Regions from separate parts of the Homo sapiens genome. Here all the other regions are linked to region 1. The links come from fine-mapping of genetic effects on gene expression. A gene starts in region 1. Each other region holds a variant in brackets. All regions are shown on one strand. Distances are between the middles of the regions. Region 1 holds the start of VPS28 (VPS28 subunit of ESCRT-I). Region 2 overlaps ARHGAP39 (Rho GTPase activating protein 39). Region 3 holds the start of ZFTRAF1 (zinc finger TRAF-type containing 1).

Region 1 (8,172 bases):
AACAGCATCTGACGCACCTGTGAGTCGTCCAGCTCATCTGACGCCGACATGCCGCTCAGGGTCTGCAGCCTGGGAGTGCAGCACAGGGCATGTGGGGGCTGAGGGCCTCAGGGGCACTGCGGGGCTCCGCCTGGCTGGGAGGGTCTCGGGCACTGCGGGGCTCTGCCTGGCTGGGAGGGACACCCACCACTGGCTGACCGTCTGGCGGCCCTCAAAGTCGGGTGGGAGGTGGCTCATGCGGTGCATGGTCTCCATCAGCTCTCGCAGGTCGGGCTGGATCTGAGACACACACAGCGGCTGGGACCCCGACGCCGGCTCCATCCCCTCCTGCCTAGGCCCCCTGCCAGCCCAATACCCGCACCTCATCCATGGCGCGGATCTCCAGACGCAGCTTGTCCATGACCGTGATGAAGAGCTGGGGGCAGGTGTGCACATGAGGCTCGCGTGTCCACGGGTGCGGGAGGCCCCACGGCTCACGGGCCCCAACCCCTCCTCAGCCACAGCTGTCACTTGGGCCTCCTCACTGTACTCTGTTCCCAAACCCTGCAGGCCTCCTGGGTGAACGAGGTCCTGGCTGCCCAGACAGCTGTGTGGGAACTGAAGGGTGGGCCCACACCCACACTCTCTCCCGAGGCCAGGACCCCGCCAGAACGCACCCTGTGCTCATCCCCCCGACAGGAGTCCAGGTGGCCTGGGGGCGTCCCCGCATGCTGCCCACCCCTCATTCCTAGTTAAAGGGGTTCCCTTCTGCCCAGCAAGTCAGAGTGCTGCTCAGCTCTGGAGGCCCAGGACCCTACGCTCGTGCCCAGCTGCAGCAGGCAGCCTCGGCTCTCCTAACCACGTGCCCTGGGGGCTGGGGCGCACCGAGACCACGTCTGCGATGCAGCGGTTGAGGTTGCCCTTGTCGTCCTTGATGGTGATGGGCCGGTCCTCCTTGATCCGCTCCATGGCCAGCGGGCAGTCCAGCTGTTGGGGGTGACATGGGTGCTGGGGCTCTCAGGACAGCAAGCCCCAGGTGGCCAGAGCCCTCTGGCACCCCATACCCATGCCCGACAGTCTCGCCCCATGGGGGTGGAAGGACCAGGCACTCACGCGGAACTTGCGGCAGAATTCGTCAATAGAGCTGATTTCTGAGCCCTGGACCTGCCTGAAGGCAGCTTTGTATTGGACCAGGAGCCGGGAGCAGGCTGCAGTGTACCTAGGGAGAGGTCAGCTGCTGCCCAAGCATGGGACCAGCCCCACCCAGCTCATCCTACCCCCTCGGCTGGTCCAGAGGCAAAGCAGCTTCCAGAGAGGACCAGGCGACAGGCAAAGGCAGGCCGAGCAAGGAGGAGGGGCTGCTAGTAGCTTTTGGGGGTGAGGCCCTGAGCACGTAGTGGGGCTTGTAGCTCGGCTCCAGGTGGAGACCCCGGCCCCCAACCCCTGCCCACCCTCTGAACCACAGCGACCAGCCCTCTGTTGTGATGGCCGCATCCACAGCTCATGGTCCTGTGCGGTGGCCTGTGACGGTCTTGTCACTTCATTGAACAAAGCCCCCCCAAAAGATCCTGGGACATCCCCAAGCCTCTCGACCGTTTTTTAAGGTTGCCTGTGCTGGGGGATGAGGGTGGGGGAGTGGGCCGGATGACACCCCAGGAGCTGCGCCTCTGCCCGCCTCCCTCACCAGCCCCCAGGACTTCCCTGGCTGAGACCCAGGGGCACCCTCCTCACGCTGGGTGGGCCCCACACAAGTGGGTGCCTCCCAGCCTGACAGACGCCTGCTCTTGCTGCCTATGGAGCACCCAAGCCCCCCAGGGCAGGAACAGACCTCCCAGGACGTGGGCTCTTACTCGCTGGGGGAGACACAGTCCTTGATGTAGGCCTTCTCCAGGGCTTGCATTGTCTTCACCACCGCAAACAGCTCTGCCATGTTGTCGTACCTGAGGACACACCTGTCTATCGGGCCAGGCCCCGGGGTGCCAAGCCTAGAGCCCAGAGTGCTACCCCCTGCCCGGAGGTGCCACTGCGGGCGCTCTGCCCACCTCTTGCTCCATCCTGGAGTGCCTCAGGAACAGTTCCCCAGACTGACCCTGCGTCCTCCCACCCCTCAGTTTGGGGTGGGTCTGGAGGGGCTGCCCCAGGGCAGCCAGATGCGCATGGGTGTGTTGGGACAGCCTGGGCGCCTGGACTTACTTCTCCCTCTCCCGGGCGTTCTTGTACAACTTCACTTCCTGCCGGAGAGAGCGGGCTCTGTGGGCCAGTGCCAACAGGGGCTGCAGGACCCTGGTGAGGCCACACAGGCATTTGCTGTTGGCCAATGCCGGCCGGGTGGGCACCCACCACTCACCTCATACAGCTCCGGCTTGTTCCCAGGGGCTGCAAGAGAAGGCAGAGAGCTGGCAGGCTGGCCCCAAAGGGAACCCAAGGGCAGACTCCAGTCCCAGTCTCCATTTCAGTTCCTCCCTGAGGCCTCCCAGGCTGGGTCCCAAAGAGCCCAGAGGGAGCTGGAGCACAGAGGTTCCAACCTCACCCCTATCAGTGTGTGGGGGGACCTGATGATAACACCTCTGAGAAGCCGGGGGCCGCATGACAGGCCCAGCTCCCCAGCTCCACTGCGGCTCCCCGGGGGACCGCATGACAGGCCCAGCTCCCCAGCTCCACTGCGGCTCCCCGGGGGACCGCATGACAGGCCCAGCTCCCCAGCTCCACCATGGCTCCCTGGCGGAGTCACCTGCACAACAGTGGCCACGCCCTGCTCGTGGCTCATGATGCAGTGCCAACAAGGCTCACCACACACAGCCTCTCCCCTGGGATTGGTGACACAGGGTGCCCAGGACCCCCACCGTTCTGGCCACACCGAAGCTCATCATCTCTGCCCAGCAGGACCAAGCCAGTTCTGTCTGGAGGTTTCTGAGCCCTCAGTGCTCCTGCAATGAACTATTTAGCCCCTGGCCACCCCCAAGGCTGTACGAGAGCAGGGTCAGATACCTCCCCACCCCCGATCCCCAATACCCAATACTGCCCGTCAGCCCCTGCAGAAGCGGCTGAAAGCCTGCGCCCTTCCAGCCACACTCACCTCCTATGCCCGGCGTGGCTGGGATCCCATGAAACATCCTCTAGGCTCTGGGGGGGGCACAGCACTGAGACCTGGGGAGCAGAGCCAGGGCCGACTCAAAGATGGCCCCTAAGCCAGGCGCTGGCTCACACCTGTAATCCCAGCACTTTGGGAGGCCGAGGTGAGCGGATCACCTGAGGTCAGGAGTTTGAGACCAGCCTGGCCAACATGGTGAAACCCTGTCTCTACTAAAATTACAAAATTAGCCGGACGTTGTGGCATACGGTTGTAATCCCAGCTACTCAGGAGGCTGAGGCAGGAGAATCGCTTGAACCCAGGAGGTGAAGGTTTCAATGAGCCAAGACCGAGCCACTGCACTCCAGCCTGGGAGACAGAGCAAGACCCTGTCTCAAAACAAACAAACGAACAACAAAAAAAACCGACAAAAAAAGACAGCCCGTAAGTGCCAGGTCCTGGAGACCCAGGGCTCCATGAAGAGCTCTCCTAAGCTCAATAATGGTGAACACACAGGGTGCTATAGGGGCTACCAGAAAAAGTGAGGTACTATGGACACTCAGGAGAGCGGGGCGGGGGCTGCAGTGGAGTGTGGTTCAAGCTGGAGGTTGAGGGAGGTTATGAGGGCGGCAGGCAGCTGTTTGATGGCCCACGAGGAGAGTTTGGGGCACAGGAAACAACACACTTAACAGCCCGCCTTTAAGTAGGCATGAACTTGGAGGAACCAACAAGCTGAAGGTGCAGCTTCTCGAAAGAGGGGGTCCTAGGGAATGAAGATGGAGAGGTGCCCCTAGTTGGGCAGCGAGCTGTGGAGAAACAATGGGAGCGGGGCCCGTGGGAGGGTCCTGCCTAGCACGGAAGCTGGGCCAGCTCCAGACGTTCTCTCTTTGAAAGTGGAGCCGTCAGATCCGCCGAGGGATTTGAGATAGGATTAAAATAAAGGAGTTACGAACGACACCCCTGTTTTTGGCCCAATGGGCCGGGCAGTAAGATAAACTCAGACGGAGAGGGGAGGAGGAGCGGGCCTGGCGGGCAGGCGCAGGAAGCTCTCGGTGGAGAGGCCCGGGAGAGCAGCGCTGAGCCGGCTAACTGGGAGTGGACGGTGCTACCGGGGATGGGAGAAGAGCAGAAGTGAGGGAAGGCCGCCCGCGCCGAAGCCCTGGGGCGCCCCAGCCGAGGAAGAGCCGGGAAAGGGCGTCGCCGCTCATGTAGGTAGGGAACGTCTGGGTCAAGCTCTCCGAGGGTCGAGGCCATTGCGAGCCGCGGGGTGGGGACCGAGGCTGCTCGGCAGCCGTCACGGAGCCGCCAGGCAGGAGAGCGCCGAGGAGCCAACCGCCCCAACCACGCAGGAGCTTCTGCCTAACAGCGAAAGCGGACGTTCTGCGGCCACAAGCAAATGTGCAAAACAACCTCGCAGAGTGGACAACGAGCAAGGAAAGCCAGTTTCTAGAACATGCCAATAACGTGACTTTTGCGGCGCTCAGCCGAAGCTGTGCCGGGGCCTAGGCGCGCCCAGAGGGTGCCAGGCCCTGAGTCGCCTCTCCCCACTCTGCCCCTTCCCCGCCCACCGGCCGGGCCCCGGGTACCTGGACGGCTCGCGGTCGGGAAGATGGCGCCGGGGGCGGGGTGCGCTCGGTCAGCGACTCGGCATTCGCCCCTCATGTCTGCGCCTGCGCGCGTCGGGGCGACCCCCCGCCCCTCCGTCCCCATCGGCAGCTCGGCGCTCAGCCCTCACGCCTGCGCCCGCGCCCGCCCGGACTTCGGGACATTCCCTCCAGCCGCGCAGCCCCCGGGACGTAACCGGCGCAGCAGACTCGAAGCCCGGTCTTACCCCGCCCACCCGCCTGCCAGGCAGCCACGGGGAGGGAGGCAGCAGCTTCATTTATTTTATTTTTTTTTTTTTTTGAGACGGAGTCTCGGTCTGTCGCCCAGGCTGGAGTGCAGTGGTGCGATCTCGGCTCACTGCAAGCTCCGCCTCCCGGGTTCACGCCATTCTCCTGCCTCAGCCTCCGGAGTAGCTGGGACTACAGGCTTCCACCACCACGCCCGGCTAATTTTTGGTATTTTTAGTAGAGACGGGGTTTCACCATGTTAGCCAGGATGGTCTCGATCTCCTGACCTCGTGATCCGCCCGCCTGGGCCTCCCAAAGTGTTGGGATTACAGGCGTGAGCCACCGCGCCCGGCCAGCAGCTTCATTTATTAGGGGCTTCGGTGAGGGTGGGGAAAGGCAGCGCCAGGGTCAGAGGCGCCGAAAGAAGAGCTTGGAGCCGTGGTCCAGCGTGCACTCGCCGGGGCCCGGCCGACTGGGCTGCAGCTGGCGCAGGGCGTCCCTGTCCTCAGCGCAGAGGCGTCTGCTGCACAGCTGCAGTTCCCGGAGCTGCGCGGCTATCTTGTCCCACAGGCCCAGGCCCAGGGGACCCTGGACGGCGCAGCCTGCGGAGGGGAAGAGGGCAGACCTCAGCGCTGCGGGGGCCGGCGGCGTCCTGGTGCCCGCGGCAGGCTCCAGGGAACAAACTCGCTTTCGCTGAGGGCCCCAGGGCTGTAGCGAGGGGCAGTGGGCAGAGCTCCGGAGAGGCCCCATGACTCTCCAGGAAGGGGTGGGATCATCTGCACAGCCAGCGGTCAGACAGGAGGAAGGGTGGCTCCCTTCTTTACCTCTGACAGTGCCCGATCTCAAAGTCCATGCCTACACGTCAGTCTCCCCACCCATAAGAAGGACATAATGGATCTGCTTGCAAATCTGTACATCGTGGGCCTGAGTGGATCAAGAGAACACTAAGCTCAGGAATTCAGGGAGCTGGGTGGGAAGGTACAGATGCCAGGAACTGAGGTGTGGGGAAGGGGTCTCACACCAGCACTCGGGGGCCTTCCTGGAAAAGGCGGCCTGGCCCTGGGAGGTGAAGGGGAGGGGGCACAGGAAGAAAGCAGAGCCCCGCTTCGTGCACATTCACTTAAGCCCTCATCCCCTGGAGGGCACAGCCTGCCCCGGCCCCAGTGGGGCAAGCCAGGTCATCAAAGCCCTTCCTGGGGTTGTCTTCCAGACAGCTCAGGTTGGGGACTGCCCTGATGTGGCTCAAGAGAGAACAAGCTAAATCAGACCACAGCCCTGGGCAGGGTTGTGTCAGAGGAGCCCCTGCCAGGAAGTAGGAGGGTCCCTTGGCAGCTTTCAACACCCTGACCTTGGGATCCCTTTTCCTGCCAGGGACAAGAAGAAAGTCCCTGTGGAACAGGGTCTTGCCTACCATAGTCTGCTCTGAAGGTTGGGTTGGAGAGACCAGAGGCAGATACCCACCTCGCCCCCTAACCCATGGTTTTAGGAGCTGGGATCATGCCCCTTTTCTGTCACTGTCACTCTGCCCCCTGCTGCCCCAGCCTCATGGAGCCCAGCCTTGCTGCCTGGCTGGTAGCAGTGACAGCCCCTTAGGAGGAGGCACCTGGGTCTCAGGCAGGTCCCTGAAAAGGCCGAACATGGCAGGCGTGGCCACCATACCAGCACTCACCTGACAGGCCAAGGAAGCTAAGGCCTTGGGGCCGCTTTTGGAGGGTGGACAGGAGCTCTTCCAAGCTGGCACAGCTGATCTCAGGGTTGGCAGACAGATCCAGTGAGATGAGTGAGGGGCACAGAGAGAGACATCTGAGATAACATGGGAAGAAGTGCAAAGGTTGGCTTCCAGAGAGGCTGTGCCCCAACACTAGGAAAGCTGCCCAGACAAATGCCAGCTCAGGGAGCCTCGGGCCAGACCCAGGGGCTCTGCCTCAGCCTGGCCCAGTAGCAGGTGGCCCTCTAGGGTTGGGGGTCCTTCCCAGGGGTCAGGGCCACAGTGGCCAGCTCTGGGTGTGCCTGGCCCAGCTTGGGCTCCTCTCAACACTCCCCAGAGAGCTGACTGAGGCTCCAGGTCATAAGAGCAGTGCCCTCATGTGGGCCGAGGCACAGGAATGACAAGGACACCCCCGGAGGAGTGCTCTCAAGAGCCACAGGCCCATGCTAAGAAAGAAGCCAGAGGGTAGTCTGCCTTCCAGGGCAGCCTGAGAGGCTGGTGGAAACCGAAGGAGCCAGGTCTTGGGATGTGCTGGGGAGGAGGAGCTGGTACCATTTCTGTGGCCCTTCTCCCATAGGGTCCAGAGCCATGAGATCAGACCCCCAGGTCAGCAGGCAGCAGGGAAAGGGCGTTACCTGCACAGGTCTCTAACAGCCTTGTCCCCCAGGTGGTTTGCAGACAGGGTCAGGTGGGCTAGAGCACAGCCTTCCTGGACATGAGCAGAGGCCCAAGGGGGCCAAACGGAGTGGCGCACCTGCCCTGCCTGCTTCCCAGCAGGTGCACCACACCCAGGGGCCCAGAAGGGAGCAGAGTCCCCCATCAAGTTGGAGATCGGAAGGAAACACCTCTCCTGATGTGGGTCACACTCTGCACGTGATAGTGTGAAAATAATAGGGTCCCAGTTGTGCCTGGAAGACCCCCCAGGAGAGAGCATCAGGGGCCCTAGTGTGCCCCTTGGGACCTTCCTGGCGGGGGGCAAGATCACCCTGAGTCCCGGGTCCTATCTGGTGGGCAGGAATTCACAGCCTGAGACAGGCAGCTGTACAAAAGCATTCCCCCAGCTGTTTTTTTCTTTTTTTGTTTTTTTTTTGAGACAGAGTCTCGCTCTGTCGCCCAGGGTGGAGTGCGGTGGCGCCATCTCGGCTCACTGCAAGCTCCGCCTCCCGGGTTCACGCTGTTCTCCTGCCTGTCTCCCAAGTAGCTGGGACTCCAGGAGCCCGTCACCACGCCCGGCTAATTTTTTGTATTTTTTAGTAGAGATGGTGTTTCACCATGTTAGCCAGGATGGTCTTGATCTCCTGACCTCGTGATCCGCCCGCCTCGGCCTCCCAAAGTGCTGGGATTACAGGCGTAAGCTACCACGCCCAGCCTGTTTTTTTCTTTTTCTTTCTTTTTTTTTTTTTTTGAGACGGAATCTCGCTCTGTCACCCAGGCTGGGTGCAATGGTGCAATCTAGGCTCACTGCAACCTCTGCCTCCCGGGTTCAACCAATTCTCTGCCTCAGCATCCCGAGTAGCTGGGATTACAGGTACCCGCCACCACGCCTGGGTAATTTTTGTATTTTTACTAGAGACAAGGTTTCA
Region 2 (8,172 bases), 150 kb after region 1:
CGTGCGTGTCGGTGAGTGAGCCCTGGATATCACTGCACACAACTCCTAACTTGACAACCCTGTACACTTCGGCCACACTCAATTCATTTAAAACTTCTTCTTTCATCAGTAATAAATTTAGTTTACTGTAACTTTTTTACTTTATAACCTTTTTAGTTTCTTTAAACTTTTTGAGTCTTTTAGAACACTTTGCTTAACATACACATTGTACAACTATACAAAATATTTTCTTTCTTTACATTCTTATTCTATAAGCTTTTTTAATTTAAAATTTCTTAAACTGACTTTTTGTTACAAACTACGACACAAACACACACACTAGCCTAGGCCTACCCATGCTCAGGATCATCAACACCACCGTCTTCCCATTGCCACATGGTGTCCTGGGAGAAAGCAACACACGTGGAGCCATCACCTCCTGAGACAACAGCGCCGCCTTCTGGACACCTCCAGAAGGACCCACCTGAGGGTGTTTCCAGCTAACATTTTTTTTTTAAGTGCACGCTAAATGATAAAAACTATGGTATAGTGAATACACAAACCAGCGACATAGTCACGTATCATCATCATGGTCAAGCACTATGCACGGTTCATAACCACACGTGCTGCTCCTCTGTAGGACCGCAGTGCAGCAGGTCTGTCTACGCCAGCATCACCACAGACTTGCGAGTACGGTGTTGCACACAACCATGGTAGGTCATAGAACCTTTTCAGCTCCATTATAATCTATGAGACCACTCTCATATATGCAGTGTGCTGCTGATGGAAATGTTACGTGGCACGTGACTGTATTATAAAGACATCTATCTACCCAAACTAATCCATAATTCAACGCAATTCTAGTCAAAATCCCAACAGAGTGGCCGGGCATGGTGGCTCACGCCTGTAATCCAGCACTTTGGGAGGGTGAGGTGGGCAGATCATGAGGTTAAGAGATCGAGACCAGCCCAGCCACCAACATGGTGAAACCGTGTCTCTACTAAAAATACAAAAATTAGCCAGGTGTGGTGGTGGGCGCCTGAAGTCCCAGCTACTCGGGAGGCTGAGGCAGGAAAATTGCTTGAACCTGGGAGGCGGAGGTTGCAGTGAGCCGAGATTGCACCACTGCACTCCAGCCTGGGCGACAGAGTGAGACTCCGTCTCAAAAAAAAAAAAAAAAAAAAAAAAAGAACGAAAAAAAACCTCCCACAGAGCTTCTCATGGAAGTCCTGGCCCCAATAGCCCCACATCACCCCAGCATTCCTGAGACATTTTTGAGAAGAGATGGACACTCCAGTCCCCAGAGAGTGGGCCCTGAGCCATGGGTGACAGGGCAGGGCTAAGGCCAGACCCACGGCCTCTCTGGGGAAGAACAGCCCCGCAAGTGTGGGTGACTGACACATTTTGAAAAGAGAATCACAAAAAGAAACCAATTCCTCCACCTAATTGCAGAGACGAGTCAAAACGAATAACAAATTCAAAATTATGATAATCCAATACCAATTCTCTGAGAAGTTCTGCGCAGGCCCGAAGCCGTCCATTCTGTTCAGTGAGAGGAAGCCGGAGGTTCCAGCGCAGCAGCACAGCACAGGCTCTTGAGGGAGAGTTATTTTTAAAATGTTAACGCCAAGTCCGCTCGTCCGCTTGTTTCTTAAAATGATTCACGATTCTCAAAATCTGGCTTCGACTTGTGCAAGATGAGCTCCTGCCCGTCTCTGGCTGGGAGAAGTTGTTCTCCAGAGGGACCATAGGATTTAACTGCAGTCAGTATTTACAGCAAACCAACAGGTTTGTTTTTCACTTATGCCATTTAAACCATAAACCAGATGCTGCAGTCACCTTTCCACGGAGCTCCACCTGTACACGCCACGAATGTCTTTTATTCCTTAACCTCTACAACAGTCTAAATTCTGTACCTTTCAGTATCATCTCCTTTGGGAAATGCCGCTGGAGGGCCAAGGACTCCTGGCCTGCTCTGGTGTGTGTTTAACTGCAGGCATGAGATTGCTCACGTGGGTTTCATGGATCATATGAAAGCCCACAGGGAGGTTCCTCTGTTTTTCAAAAGCACACAGATGCTGCTGTGACAACCGGAATACACGCTCAGGGCCGGTTCAACATGAGACCAACCAGTGTAAAACACCACACTGACAGATAGACTGAAGGAGAGAAACCACGTGATCATCTTAACTGATACAGAAAAGGCATTGACAAAATCCACATGATAAAACCACTGGGAACACAAGGAGTATCAAGGAACTTGCTCAATAGAAAAGACTGGAAGCTTTCCCCGAGATCAGGAGCAGAACAAGGATGCCCCTTCACCACTGCCATTCAACACTGCACTGGAAATCCTATGCAGGGCAATCAGTTAAGGAGAAGAAAAAGGCATCCAAATTGGAAAGGAAGATGTTAGACTATCACTAACCACAGATGACATAGTCCTATATATAGAAAATCCCAGAGATTATAAACGAAGGTTACTACAGCTAATACAGAAATTCAGCAAAGTTGCACAATACAAGATCAACACACAATCAGTTATGTTTCCATACACCACAATGGACAATCCAGAAACAAACAAACAAAAAATTCCACTTACAACAGCATCAAAAAGAATAACATATCTAGGAAGAAACTTTACCAGGGAGGTGAAAGGACTGTAAACTAGAAAATATAAAACACTGCTAAGAAAAATCAGACATAAGCAAATGAAAAGACATCCTCTGTTCATGGATTAGAAAATTAATATTGCTTGGATGAAATATCAGCTTACAGATCCAACACAATCCCCCACACAGATCCAAAATTCCAAAAGCTTTTTTTTTGTTGTTGTTAAAAGAAATGAAAAAGCCAATCCCCAAATTCTTGTGGAATTGCAAGGTGCTCCAAATAGCCAAAACAACCTTGAAAAATTAGAATAAAGCTGGAAGACTCACACTTTCCAGTTTCAAAACTTATTACAAAGCTACAGTGATCAAAACAATGTGGTACTGGGATATGGATCAATGCAAATCAATTGAGAGGCCAGAAATGAACCCAAATCTATGACAGGTCAATTTTTGTTTGTTTGTTTTTGAGACAAAGTCTTGCTCTGTCACCCAGGCTGGGGTACAGTGGTGCGATCTCGGCTCACTGCAACCTCCACCTCCTGGCTTCAAGTGATTCTCCTGCCTCAGCCACCCGAGTAGCTGGGATTACAGGTGTGAACAACCACTCCCAGCTAATTTTGGTACTTTTAGTAGAGACAGGGTTCTGCCACGTTGGACAAGCTGGTCTCAAACTCCTGGCCTCAAACTCCTGCCTTCCTTGGCCTTGAAAAGTGCTGGGATTACAGGCGTGTGCCACTTTTCTTGGCCAAAATTAAAAACTTTGTACTTTGGCCATGCACACTTTGGCTCATGTACTTTGGCTCATGTCTGTAATCCCAGTGCTTTGGTAGGCATAGGTGGGCATACTGCCTGGGCTCAGGAGTTGGAGACCAGCCTGGGCAACATAGTGAAACCCCAATCTCTACAAAAAAAATACAAAAATTAGCCTGGTGTGGTGGCACGTGCCTGCAGTCCCAGATACTTGGGGGTCTGAGGTGGGAGGTCACTGGGCCCGGGAGGTGAGGGCTGCAGTGAGATTGCACCACTGCACTCCAGCCCCAGAGACAAAGAGAGACCCTGTCTCAAAAACAAACAAACAAACAAACAAAACAAAAACAACAAAAACCTTTGTTTTTCAAATGATACCATCAAGAAAGTGAAAAAAGGGGCCAGGCGTGGTGGCTCATGCCTGTAATCCCAGCACTTTGGGAGGTGGGTGGATCACGAGGTCAGGAGATCAAGACCATCCTGGCTAACATGGTGAAACCCTGTTTCTACTAAAAACACAAAAAATTAGCTGGGCGTGGTGGCAGGTGCCTGTAGTCCCAGCTACTCGGGAGGCTGAGGCAGGAGAGTGGTGTGAACCCGGGAGGCGGAACTTGCAGTGAGCAGCAATCGTGCCACTGCACTCCAGCCTGGGCGACAGAGCGAGACTCTGTCTCAAAAAAAAAAAAAAAAAAAAAAAAGAAAGTGAAAAAAGGCTCAAAGTCATTAGTCATTAAGGAAATGCAAACCAAAACTACAATGAGACATTTCACAGTGGCTACAATAGCTAAAAGAAATCTAAAAAGGAAAGCAAGTAGTGTTGGCAAGGCCGTGGATAACTTTGAACCCTCATATTTGCTGGTGGGATGTGAAATGTAGGCCCTGGTCCTCTTTGTGCCCGCCTTCTGCACCGCTCGCTCACCCACGCCACGCCCGAGCCTCCGCTGCTCACCCTGCCCTGAATACCGACACCAACACCGTCTTCCCGGTGTGCTCCAGTGGCTCCTCCACACCTGATTTGCCCCACCTCCTGCCCACTCTGCAGCAGGCCCCATCCCTGGCCTCCCTTTCATCCTGCCAGACCGGGTCCACGGGATGAACCTGCTGCCCGCCTCCCTCTGTGCCTGCACCTCGGCACGGTGGGACGGAAGCCTGCTGTCCTCTGAGCTCTGTGGTTCACTCTGAATCCCTCTTCTGAAGCCTCAGATGAGCCCGGCAGTCCAACACGCTCCTTCCCACCTCTGCAGAAAGCCCCTGGGCCTCAGCTCCCCTGGCAACCTCAGCCAAGCACCGAAAATCTGGTACTGGGGGAGACCAATCCCCTGCCTTTCTCTCCCTGGGGTCCAGCCTCTCCTCCATCCTCTCCAGAGTGGCCTCCATCCGCCCCTGCAGTGGCCAGGCCTGTCTGCCCTGGGCCACAGCCTGGGCTCTGGGAAGCCCCAGCCTCCTGTCCCTGCCTCGGCTCTTCCCCACTGTCCTGCTGGCCTGCCGCCTGCCTCAGCCCTTCCCCACTGTCCTGCCCGCCTGCCTCGGCTCTTCCCCACCGTCCTCTCTGGACTCGCTTCCCACGGTGCACTCACCTCGAGGCCCTTGCGCTCTACCCTGACCTCTCCCTGTTTCTGAGGG[C/T]AGGGGTCTCCTGGGCTCCCACCAACACAGGCTGTGCTCCTTCGGAGCCACTGTGACTCCAGAGGACCACCTCCAAGCCTGCTCAGACCCCTCAGCTGTGTCCACACTGATCTACACCCTCCACCTGGGTCCCCCTAGGTCCACACACCCCACGCCCGCACGCAAATCCCCACATCTGCATCTCCCATCAGCAGAGAGAGCTGGGCGAGCCCCTCAGACACTGCTCTCAGGAACCACCACCTGCCAGGGGCTGGGCCAGTGAGGGGCAGGGTTGGAGGACCCAGAACCCTCTGAGGCTGAGCGCCAGGCTCTGCTGCCCAGAGAGACAAGAAAGTGCTCACTGGGGACAGCAGCGGTGGCTGCTACAGCCAAGGACGAGGCTCTGGCCACTCGCGGGGACACTGAGTCCCCTGGGTCCCCGCCCACCGCCCTCACCTGGCCCTGCCCACCATACCTGACCTACTCCTCACCTGGCCCCGCCCACCACCGTCACCAGTCCCGCTCTCACGTGGCCCCGCCCATTCCACTCACCTGGCCCCGCCCACCATACCCGACCTACTCCTAACCTGGCCCCGCCCACCACCTTCACCAGTCCCGCTCTCACCTGGCCCCGCCCACCACCCCCTACCTGCCTCACCTGGCCCCGCCCACTCCATTCACCTGGCCCCGCCCATAGCAGCTGCCCCCGCCCTCACCTGCCGCTGTCCTCCTTCACTGTCCCAAACGCCGCGGGCCGCCCGGCCCTCGCTGGCAACTCCTGCGCTTTCTCAGTGTCGGGCTCGGGCTCCAGGGAGGAGCTGGTGCTGCCCTCACGGCTGACGCTGCTGCCGCGCCCGGGGCTGCTCTCCGCCGAGGCGCGCGGGGACTCCGTGTTCTGCTTCAGCGTCTGCAGCTTGGCCAGCGGGATGATGTCGCAGCCCTGCGGCCGGTGCCACACCGTGCGCTGCGTGCTGGCATTGTAGTAGTAGAAGCGGGACGTGTTGGGGTCGAACAGCTCCCACCACTGGTTCTCGCTGGTGCGCTTGATGCGGACGCCGGCCGGCGGGTCCCACACGCACTCACCGGTGACCAGGTTGGCGTACATGCGCTCGCGGGTGCGCGGTTCGATGATCTCCACCCACTCCAACCTGGGGAGAGACAGGGTTAAGGCGGCTGGAGCCACGGCGGCCTGGGCCCGCGCCTCCCACCCCTGCAGACCCCGGCTCCAGCCCCAGCTGCGAAACCCAGAAATCCTGTCATAGAGGAAAGCAAACCCAAGCCCAGTCCGCCCCTGACTGCTGTGCTCCTGAGCACCCGCAACCGGGGAAGCCCCCGGAGCCGCCAGCGCCTCAGGGTGGTGCAGCCCTTTGGGGGGTCCTGGGCCCCACGTGGGGTAGGGACATACTGGCTGTGGTTGCAGGCTCCTGTCCTCACAGGCACCCAGGCCACAACCTCACTGCCCACTGCTCCGTCCTGCAGGATCGTGGCACAGGCCTGCGAGTCATCACTGCACACCTGCTCAGTAGCCCCTCCGCTGCAACTGGACCGCCACCTCCACACTGGGTCGGGGTCTGGAGGGGCCTCAGGCCCAGCTAAGTGCTGCTGGACTCCCAAGCTGTGTTCTCCCAAGGATCCCCCAGATCAGCAAGGCCAAGGGCCCAGCTGGCTCTCAGACCCCCGATGGGGGGCAGAGTCTCCACCCGGCCCTCAGACCCCCGCTGGGGGCACAGCCTCCAGCTCAGTAACGTTTCTGAGGCCTCTTCCATGTTTCTACACGGAAACAAAAACCCTTAGAGGCACCAAGAGCCTCTCAGCAAAGATGCTGCCAGGAGGCGTTCCCATGGACCCATGCATCCGTCTCTTAACCCTGCGACAGGCCTGGTCCTCGCCATCACCGGGCTGGTGAGGTGTCTCGTTAGCCCTGCGACAGGCCTGGTCCTCGCCATCACCGGGCTGGTGAGGGGTCTCGTTTCCAGGGAAAATGCACTAATCCCAGGGGCTCAACAGAAGGGGAGGCAAGTGGTGAGGGCAGAAGGGCCAGCGGACACCAGGCCCAGACACGGGCTAGTGGGGGCTGCCTGCGGCTCCCCCAGGTCAAGGACAGAAAGAGCCCCCCTGGCGGCCGGCGCAGACTGGCTGCGGGGGCGACCTTCATCCCACGTCCCACCCTTTGAAACCAGGCCAGGGACACGGCGGCTCTGAAAACAGGCTGTGATGCGCACCACACCTGCTCGTAGGACACCAAGGATCCAGGCGGAGTCTGTCCCCGCCACCCCCAGAGGCCAGCTGGGGAAGCCGGGCCCTCACACAGTGGCGGCGGCCCCAGCAGCAGCCCTGGGGGTTCTGGGTCTGTTTCTTGCTGATGCAGATGAGCAGCTGAGAAACAGGCCTTGCCACCCAAGCCCTCCTTCAGGCCCTGGCCACTGGGCACTGTTTGCTCCTCTGTGTTTGGATGCCACAGGCAGAAGGCACCGAGGGACAGTCCACGTGGGGCCATGAGGTGGGCGTGCTCAGGGCCTTACGTGGGGAAGGAGCTGGCTCAGGGGTCTGGCTGCAGGAGGAGGATGAGGCGGGTGGGACTGGGCCTGAGTGCAGACACCACAGTGGTGCACTCAGAAGTCCAATGAAGGAGGGCCAGTGAGAGAAGGGGCACCCTGGGGATGGGCTGGTGGTGGAGGGCTGCAGGGGAAGGCAGATGAGAACTCCTGAGGCCCGCCTGTGGATGTTTCACCGTCATCCCCGTGGGAAGGCGAGGTGGTGGGGGTCCTGTTGTTTTGCTCAGCTTGAGTACATCTGCCAACAACTCCCCCCAAACAAATGCCTCGGCTTGCTCGGCTCAGACCCTCCACAGGCCCCAGACTCTGAACTTCCACCTGCATGTCTCGCCACACCCTTGGCGTACACACCCACTCCACCGTCCACCGTCCAGCAAACCACACGCAACAGGGGCCACCCCCGCTCTGGTCCGTGCTTTCCCTTCTCAGCCCGGGGTCTCGCCAGGCACCAATAGCTGCCCAGCCCCTCCCTCCCAGCCCACAGTGGGTCCCCCAGTCGCTCCTGACGAACAAATCTAGGCAGCACCTTTCAGTCCCGAGGGAGCTGTGCCACTTTTGATACCACTGATCATGTTCTCTTCCTTTTATTTTTAAAGTTTTAACTTTTTGTTTTATAATTTCATATTTTCAAAAAGGTTAACAGCCTTCACCCAGATTCACCGCGTGTCACCTCCCTG
Region 3 (8,172 bases), 32 kb after region 1:
CAAGTCAGAACACAGGGAGTCCCTAGAGTGCCCTGGACTACACTGGCCCAGTAGCCAAGGGACACAGCCACACTCACCCCCAGACCCTCCCCACTGGTCAAAGGACATCTCTAGGTGCATGGCCCGGTCCCGACCAACACTCAGCCCAGGAGGTCTGTCCACAGCAGGACGGTCCCTGGTCACATGCTCCGGAGCCTCCCCACCATCTGGGTCCCCTCAGCCCCTGCGCAAGACTCTGGCTCTACACCAAGGCCAGGCCACAGGCAGCTGCATCCTTGGCCCTGGCAGCATCTGGCCAGATGCACTTGATTCTGACTTGTGCCCAACACCCAACAGAAGCTGGGCCCTGGAGGGCGCCGCACAGTCCAGGGGATGGCGTGGGCCAAGGCCCCCAAGAGCCCGGGCACCTTCCAGAGCAGCTGCTGTGGCACCCAGGCCAGGCCACCTCTCCCCACCAGCCAGGAAGACCCCAAGGGAGGGGAGAGGAGGGGATCCACAACCCCCCACGACCAAGAATGACGCCATGGGGGATGACATCATGGGCGAGACATCACAGAGGATGATGTCAGAGGGGTGACATCGTGGGAAATTGACATCACATGGGGAATGACATCATGGGGGAGACATCACGGGAATGATATCACGGGATGATGTCACATGAATGACATCACAGGGGGGACATCATGGGAGACTGGCATCACATGGGGGGATGACATCACCGGGGGATGACATCACAGGGGCATGACATTGCAGGGGAATTGCATCATGGGGGGTGACATCACGGAATGACATCACAGAGATGACATCACACTGGCATCATGAGGGAATGACATCACAGGGGATGACATTACGGGGATGACATCAAAGGGAGTATTGACATTACAGGGGATGACATTGTGGGAAATTGACATCATGGGGGACTGACATCATGGGGGGATGGCATCATGGGGGGAATGACACCATGGGGATGACATTAAAAGAGGTATTGACATCACAGAGGTGATACCACAGGGGATGACATCATGTGGTGACAGCACGGGAATGACGTCACATGTATGACATCACAGGGGAATGATGTCATGGGGGAATGACATCACGGGGGAATGACATCACAGGGCCTCCTGGGCCCTCCTAGGGCAGATGTGGGCTTGAAGCCACAGTGCTGGGCTCAGACGCCAGCCCACAGATCCCCAGTAATATGACCTTGGGCTCCCCTCTTGGGGCCTCAGTTTCCTCATGTGCACAGGTGATGAGTATAGGACCAGCTTCATTCTGTGCTGATGAGGTGGGATGGGACAGGGTGGCACTGCCCCACACCCAACAGGCAGACAGGAAATATCACCACCTTGGGCAGCCATGGCAGAGCCCCTGGGGCTGCCAACCCCAGGAGCCAGACCCCAGGCCCCTCTGCAGATGCTGATACACACAGGTGGCCCAGAAATGGCCATTTGCACCTGCATCCTCAGGACAGCACCCAGCCCTCCCCCCTGCTGGCTACAGGCAGCTCACGTGACCCCCATGCAGACCCAGGGTCTCCACCTGAGCTACTTCTTCCCTGGGGTTAAAGGGGAGCTAGATGGGCGGAACAGGCTCAAGGAGCCCTGACCCCATCCCCTGGCTGAGGGCCCCCACGATTTCCTGGTGGTCCCAAGGTCTCTATGGTCAGCTGACCTTGTAGGACCCCTTTCACACCTGGACTGCATGGTTCTCTCAGACCCTGGGGACCTCCTGTTTGCCACTGGAGGATGGCACAGTGCCCAGGCCCATGGGAGCAGTGCCCTCGCTCACCCAGGGGTCAGGGACCCACAGGCCCTTGACAGAGGTCGTCAGAGCCAAAATGCAGCCAAAGGGCTTCCCTGTGGCACAAACCCCAAAAGCGCTGCTCAGCCAGTTGGAGGTCCCCCTTCCTCTGCCATCTGCATGCAGGCAAGGCCTCACCAGGGCCAGTGGTGCTTCAGGGCACACCCCATGCACCCCGCGTGCTCGGCCCCTAACCTCCCGAATCAAACATGGGTCTGAGAGGGACTGGCACGTTGTCCAAGGCCGCACAGCTGTTAAGCATGAAGCCAGGACTCGAACCCTCCACCCAGGCTGGATTTGAAGTCCCTCACCTGCTACTGCTGTCAGACCTCAAACGGTGGCCAATCAATCCCCAGAGTCGGGCCCACATTCAGAACAAGGCTGCTTAGATCTAAAAGTAACTCAAATGATAACCACCACAGAAAACAAAAATTCCAACTAGCCAGAGATTCCAGAACATCTTCCTTGCTCCTGTGTTTTAGATACCTAAGCAGACGTATTTACAAAGATGTTTTCTGCCACTTTCCTCACCTCAAAGAACGAGTCAGCTGCAGTCCTGTACTGCTGCCCAGGAGACTGGGGAAGAGGGGCCCGAAGCTCCTTGGACATGTGGATGGTGACTCCACCCCCCCAGGACTGCACACTGTTGGCCTGGTTGGGGGTGTGGGGCTCGGGCAGAGAGGAGCCATCTCTGCTTCCTGGGCTGTTATCAATGGACTGTCAACATGTGGCATAGAGACATGGGCGCTACAGGCGGGAGGGCCACGGCACACACCAACCCACCCACAGAACAGAGTGGACACACCCTGGTCAGATGGGGCAGGAGGGGATCCTTGTAGCAAGGAGAGAACAAAGTCTCAAAGTGGGGGCGCTGCCTCTGCCGGGCCCAAGAGGTGGGCAGGGGCAGGGAGAGGACACCTCAGGCAGGAGAGCATGGGAATGGCAGGGCACTGTGCAGGGCCGAGTTAGAGGGAGCGGCTGGACCACATCTGTGAGAGGCCCCTGCCCGGCACTTACACCCGAGTGAGCCCGTTTTTGCCTTAAGAATGCCCCATGAGGGGTGGGAACAATGCGCAGTCCCTTCCTCCAGGTGCCAGCACCAAGGCCCAGGGCCTCATCTGACAGCAGCAGGAAGGGTCAGGGCCAGGTCTGTCTTACGCAGCATCACACTGGGCCTCGTCTGAAGGGCCAAAATGGAGGGAGAGAAGTCAGGGATGAGGCTGCGGCTGCAACGTCCCGGGCACCGCTGAGGCTGTCTCTTCCCAGAGGAGGTGCCCCATGGGCAGAGGTGCCAACAGGCCACACTGCCCTCGGGCCGCAGAGCAGGGAGCCGGCAGGAACGACCTGACCACCTGCGCGGCCTGGTCAGGCCAGAAGCTCCTGCACAGGTGTAACTGCTGCCCCACCAGCCCTCCTGCCACCCACCTGAGACTCCAGAAGGTGGCTGCACACCTTGTCAGGCCAGTCCCCCAGAACATATCTAACACCCACACAGAGAACATAAAAGCTGAGTCTTGCTGTACTGGCTGCAGCCCCAACCTGACGTGAGGCAGGACTCGGCGGTGGCGGAAACCTTTTGCATGAGGGCCTCAGTCTGACACCCAAGCAGGTTTCCCAGCCTGTGAGGCATCATCGTACGGGCACAGGCCCATGGGTCAGCTGGCCCTGCAGGCCCAAAGGCTCAGACCTGGGGCACCACCCGAGGCTTCCCTGCCAGCACTGGTGGCATCTGGTATCTGGATGACAAGCTCTCGAGTTACTGAGGACCCAGCCAATTCCAGAGGCCCATGGAGTTGTCCCCCACAGCCCCAGTGCCAGGGAGAACACACAAAGCTCAGCATGGCCACTCCCCTCTTCTCACCAGAGTCAGGGACTGTCTAAGTCAGCCCCCAGCTTGGCTGGTGCCCACCCTGAGCCATGTGTTCTGCTGGGGTCAGGAAAAGCGTTCTAGCAGGAACAGAGGGTGGAACCTGCTGCATTCCTGACACTGGCTGGCTCGAGACAGCCAATCAACGTGGTCACCAAGGAAAGCTAGTAGAATATGGTAGACTGAACCCAAGCTGGGGTGATGGCCAGCATGGGCCCAACCAGGGACACGCAGAAGGCAGCATGTGGGGGCCCACACCATCTGTGCCCAGATTCTCCAGGGAGCAGAGCAGGCCAGAGCCCAGGTCTCCAGGTCTGTGTTGACCTTCCAGGGGCACCACTCACAGCCGAGAGCCACCCGCCGGAGGTGTTCTTCGCAGCATTCAGGGAGGCCTGTGCCCACAGCACTCCTCGCTCAGCTGCTCTGTTCCCAGGGAAGTCACTGAACAGAGCCCCCAGGCCAGGGAGGGCCACCAGCCAGGGCAGCCCCAGCGCCTTCGGTCTCCATTACACCTGTTCAGCTCCCTGCCTCTGGCCGCCCAGAGCAGAACTCCACTCTGCACAGTGCAGGCCGGTTTGAACCAGCTAGGCTCAGAGGCCTGGTCACCAGGAGCTCCGGTCAGAAGCAGAGCCATCACTCTGTGCCGGGCCAGTCTAGATGGGGGATGCAGTGCACCAGGGACCAGTACCATGTGGCCCATCACCACCAGGTCCAGCTACAGCTCCAGCCCACCCACCAATGGGGAGACAAGGAGACTTCCCTGTTCCCCCGTGGCCTCACACCATTGGCTTGGCTTGTTGGAGTCTCCCTCGAGATCCAAGAAAAAGTTCTGGCCAAGCGCAGTGGCTCATGCCTGTAATCTCAGCACTTCAGAAGGCCGAGGCAGGCGGATCACCCAACGTCAGGAGTTCGAGACCAGCCTGGCCAACATGGCGAAACCCCGTCTCTACTAAAAAATACAAAAACAGCCGGGCATGGTGGCAGGCGCCTGTAATCCCAGCTACTCGGGAGGCTGAGGTAGGGAGAATTGCTTGAACTCGGGAGGCGGAGGTTGCAGTGAGCAGAGATCGTGGCACTTCACTCCAGCCTGGGTGACAGAGTGAGACTC[C/T]GTCTCAAAAAAAAGGAGAGTTCTTCCGCCTGGGAGGATCGAAGGTTGTGAGCCAGGAAAAAGGAGCTGGAGAGTGGGCACATCTTGGAAGCTGAGGCACTGCCAAAGCCAAGGAGTAACTGCTAACTCTGGGAGCCAGTGGCTCTGAAAAGTGCTCCCCTAGCTGGCCCTGGTGCCTGACACCCAGGAGGGTGGGTTAGAGCCAGTGCCCTCTCCCCACCCAGGCACACTGGGGTCCTCCCGACAAGGTCATGCCACAGCAAGAAGGACTTGGAGATCCAGAGTTTGGAGAAATGGCAACCTAGACTAGCCCTACACCACCTGCTACAAAAGTAGCTCCTCATCCAGGCCCCCAATTCAAACACAAGCAGGGAAACAAGGCCCCATTAGCTACTTCCAGCTCCTGTAAGTGTAAAGAAAGCTGACAGAGAACCTGCTTCATTTCTCACAGGGACTGGGGAGTTGAAAGAGAGGGAAAGACACAGGGAAGGTGGGGACACTGTACTCTGCCTCTGGGTGTCAACCAGTTTGTCCCTGCTGCTACCTGGGAAAGGGCATGTCAAACCCACCTGGGCCAGGTACCCTAACAGCCCTAGGCTGCTTAAGGGCTGAGTCCCACTGCCATGCGGATGTGAAGATGGGGGAGGAGGGGTGGGCCGGCTCCTGGAGCACTGGCTGCCTAGGAAGCCTGGCCTGGCCTGGGTGAGGTGGGCAGGAGCCTAGCGTGGGGCATGGCAAGTCCAGTTGGATGTGGGGTTTGGCTGGGACTGGAGAAGGTACCCAAACTGTGGGGCTTGTTGCAAATGGTTCATCCCGACAAACAGCAATCCCCTCTCCTTACTGTTCTTCAGGATGAACTGGAAATGGACCAAGAGAAAGGATTCTTCCACCCAGGAGGGTAGAAAAGGAGGCGTCCATAGGATGTTCAGGAGTGGAGGGACAAACTCGGGGGTGTGGCTGCCGGAAGAATGGGGAAGGAGCTCTCGAGCACAGGACTCTGAGCCCAGGGAGCTTGGGACCGGGTGGGTTGCGGGGAGCAGTTGCGGGCTAAGGATCAGTTTGAGGCTGTGGGTTGGGAGAGTGTTCAGGGGACCGTGGGGAAGTCTAGAAAAAAGAAGGGAGAGGTAAGCGGAAGACAAGCGATTCAGATCGGGAAGTACCGTGGATCAGAAAACAGAAAAGGGGGGTCCCGAGCGGAAAATAAAGCCCTGAGAGAAAGACAACGAGGAGCTTCGGAGCAGCCGCTGGAGCCCCGCTGGGCGAGGAAGTGGCTGTAAGGGCCAGAGAGGGTTCCCGGCCGCCGGGCCCCGCAGGCCTGGCCTCCGAGGAGACGCGGATCCTGGGGCCCCGCGGCGGGGGCTGCAGCCCCGGGCTGGGCCGGGTCGGGGTCGGCCGGCGGCCCTACCTGGTACACGGAGGCCTTGGGCAGGTCCAGGCACACGGTGCAGCACAGCACCGAGTAGAGCCGCTCCTCCAGTTTCCCGCTGCCGGCCGCCGCCGCCGCCGCCGCCGCCTCGGCCGCCTCGGCTGCCCGCAGCCGCTTCTTGGGCGGCGCGTCGGGGTCGCCGGCCGCCTCCTGCAGCTGTAGCTGCCGGGCGCCCGCCAAGCCCGCCTCGTCCGGGAGCCCAGGCCCCGCCGCCTCGCCCAGAGCCGCCGCCGCCGCCTGCCCGGCGGCCGCCCCGGGCCCGGCTCCGACCCCGACCCCGACCCCGGCCGGCACGGAGCCCGCGGGCCCCGCGGCCGGGCCGCCCCCGCCGGCCTCCTCGGCGCCGGACATAGCGGCCGGCCGGCCCGGCGGGCGGATGCCGGCGCGCTCCCCCGACTAGAAGTTAGGGGCGCCGCGCGCTCCCGCCGCTCTCCTGCCGCCGCCGCCGCGAACCCGCAGCCCCGCTCCCTGCGCCGCCGCCTCAGTGGGCCCGGCCCGCGCGTAGCCCCACAGCCGCCGCGGCCACCGACCCCGGCACGGCCGCCATCTTTGTTTTCGCTGTGCGCTTCCCCCCGCCCCGCCGCCACCACCCCCTCGTCTTCCCCGTCACGTGAGCCCCACGCGGGGCCAATGGGAGCGCCGCTTGGGGCAAGAAAGCGCAGGGACTAGAGCCAATGGGAGAGCGAGGGCCCCCGAAGGCCCGCCCCTGCAGAAGGTGGGCGGGGAGGGGGCGCGGCCTGCGAGAGTCGCGGAGGGACTCGCACCTGGGGGCAGGGAGGCCCACGCGAGCTGTGGCGCCGGCGCGGCACCCACGCTCCACGAGCCAGTGGCGGCCGCCGACCCCTACGGCGGGGTGTGCCTGTGTCTCTGTCCCCCAAGACTCAGGCTTGTGTTAGGGGCTCTCGCCCCCTTCCCCGCAGGGGAAGGACACAAGTGAAAAATCCCGCCGGCCACCCCTCTCTGTCGGGTGCGGGACCCCTTAGGTCTCCACAGGAGCAAGCGGAGAGACTTCCAGGAGAGGGGACTCCAGACCCCTAACCCACCGGAATCTAATCCTCTGCTCGTCCGAACCCCCTCTAACCCTGGGGTTGGAGACTGAAGGGGTCCACTGAGGAAAACGAAGGTATTAGGGAATAGGGCTGGCTTCCACAGGCCGGAGGTACACAGGAGGGCGAATCAGCTCTGGGAAGGATGTGCGTTTCTCGAAACGCCTGTGGTACAGCCCTCCCCTGCCTCCACCCTACTCTTCAGTTCTTGAAGGTCACTGCCCCAGAGGGCCACCTGCCAGGCCAGGCCAGGATATCTGGAACTCCACCATGTCCCTGGAGAGTAAGGGCCCAGGGCTATGTCTTCTCAGCCCAGGGGTCTTCCTGACAATAGTCAAAAGGAGGCCGGGCTGCATGAGACCCCATCCTAGTTCCAGCACATACCCTGTCAGGGTAACTGACTACTGTCCTGAGGGGCCTTAGGAAGCTCACTGAAAGATCCCTCAATCCCTCTCAAAAATGGGCAGTTTTCATATTCCTGCAAAATTCCTAAGATTTATTGGAGACTAGGCCTCTTCTCTGGATCCACAACCGTGTCCAGCCCAGAATCAGGACCCCCAAACGTGTCTGGGACCCTGTCCCTTTCATTCTGGTCTAGACAAGTCCCCACACGTGGCCAAAGGACAGCACCCAGACTCTGCCCCTGACCAGTCAATGTGCAGCAAACCCACTTCAGTAGGCAGAAGAGTCTACCCCTAGGGAGAAGGCGCCAGGAGCAGGCAGGTGGGAGGGAAAGTGTTCGGCAGGGCAGAAACCCTGCCTGGCTGTATCCAACTGTCACTCCCACTGGAGGCGCTGTGTATGCAGGGCCCGGCAGTAAGCCCAGCTGCCTACAGCCAAGGCCCAGCGACAGACATCCTCCTTCGGTAGCAGCAGCAGCCTGTCCTCCTCCAGCCGGCTCAGGAGGCCTGCCACACCCAGCATC

Evidence for each region. PIP is the estimated chance that this variant, and not a neighbour inherited with it, causes the effect. A credible set is the group of variants that fine-mapping cannot tell apart.
Region 2: its variant is the best candidate, but not a certain one, in a credible set for the expression of VPS28 in pancreas (GTEx, PIP 0.67).
Region 3: its variant is the best candidate, but not a certain one, in a credible set for the expression of VPS28 in esophagus muscle (GTEx, PIP 0.75).

What each region holds. Positions count from the first base shown.
Region 1 is chr8:144,423,854-144,432,025 of GRCh38, forward strand. It overlaps VPS28 (VPS28 subunit of ESCRT-I), which reads right to left and starts at 4,695. Exons shown (of 10, transcript NM_016208.4): 1 at 4,636-4,695; 2 at 3,056-3,126; 3 at 2,327-2,355; 4 at 2,173-2,210; 5 at 1,830-1,919; 6 at 1,093-1,198; 7 at 865-966; 8 at 362-415; 9 at 188-279; 10 at 1-69. The coding sequence starts at 3,092. TONSL (tonsoku like, DNA repair protein) reads right to left here. Exons shown (of 26, transcript NM_013432.5): 24 at 7,225-7,298; 25 at 6,551-6,684; 26 at 4,922-5,483. The coding sequence ends at 5,290. RefSeq lists an enhancer at 2,027-2,790 and a silencer at 4,521-4,870.
Region 2 is chr8:144,575,190-144,583,361 of GRCh38, forward strand. ARHGAP39 (Rho GTPase activating protein 39) reads right to left here. Exons shown (of 12, transcript NM_025251.3): 3 at 5,657-6,088. Among named protein-coding and RNA genes, the nearest start is that of C8orf82, 50 kb to the left of the region's middle. The variant C/T (reference allele first, on the strand shown) is at 4,962.
Region 3 is chr8:144,456,103-144,464,274 of GRCh38, forward strand. The region is part of intron 2 of TMEM276-ZFTRAF1 (TMEM276-ZFTRAF1 readthrough); the gene reads right to left. It overlaps ZFTRAF1 (zinc finger TRAF-type containing 1), which reads right to left and starts at 6,769. Exons shown (of 4, transcript NM_001330618.2): 1 at 6,181-6,769. The coding sequence starts at 6,552. TMEM276 (transmembrane protein 276) reads right to left here. Exons shown (of 3, transcript NM_032687.4): 3 at 7,723-8,172. The coding sequence ends at 8,025. MIR10400 (microRNA 10400) reads right to left here and starts at 6,437; the gene lies at 6,383-6,437. RefSeq lists enhancers at 6,340-7,017, 7,018-7,695, 7,790-8,172 and silencers at 6,682-6,981, 7,032-7,151. The variant C/T (reference allele first, on the strand shown) is at 4,776.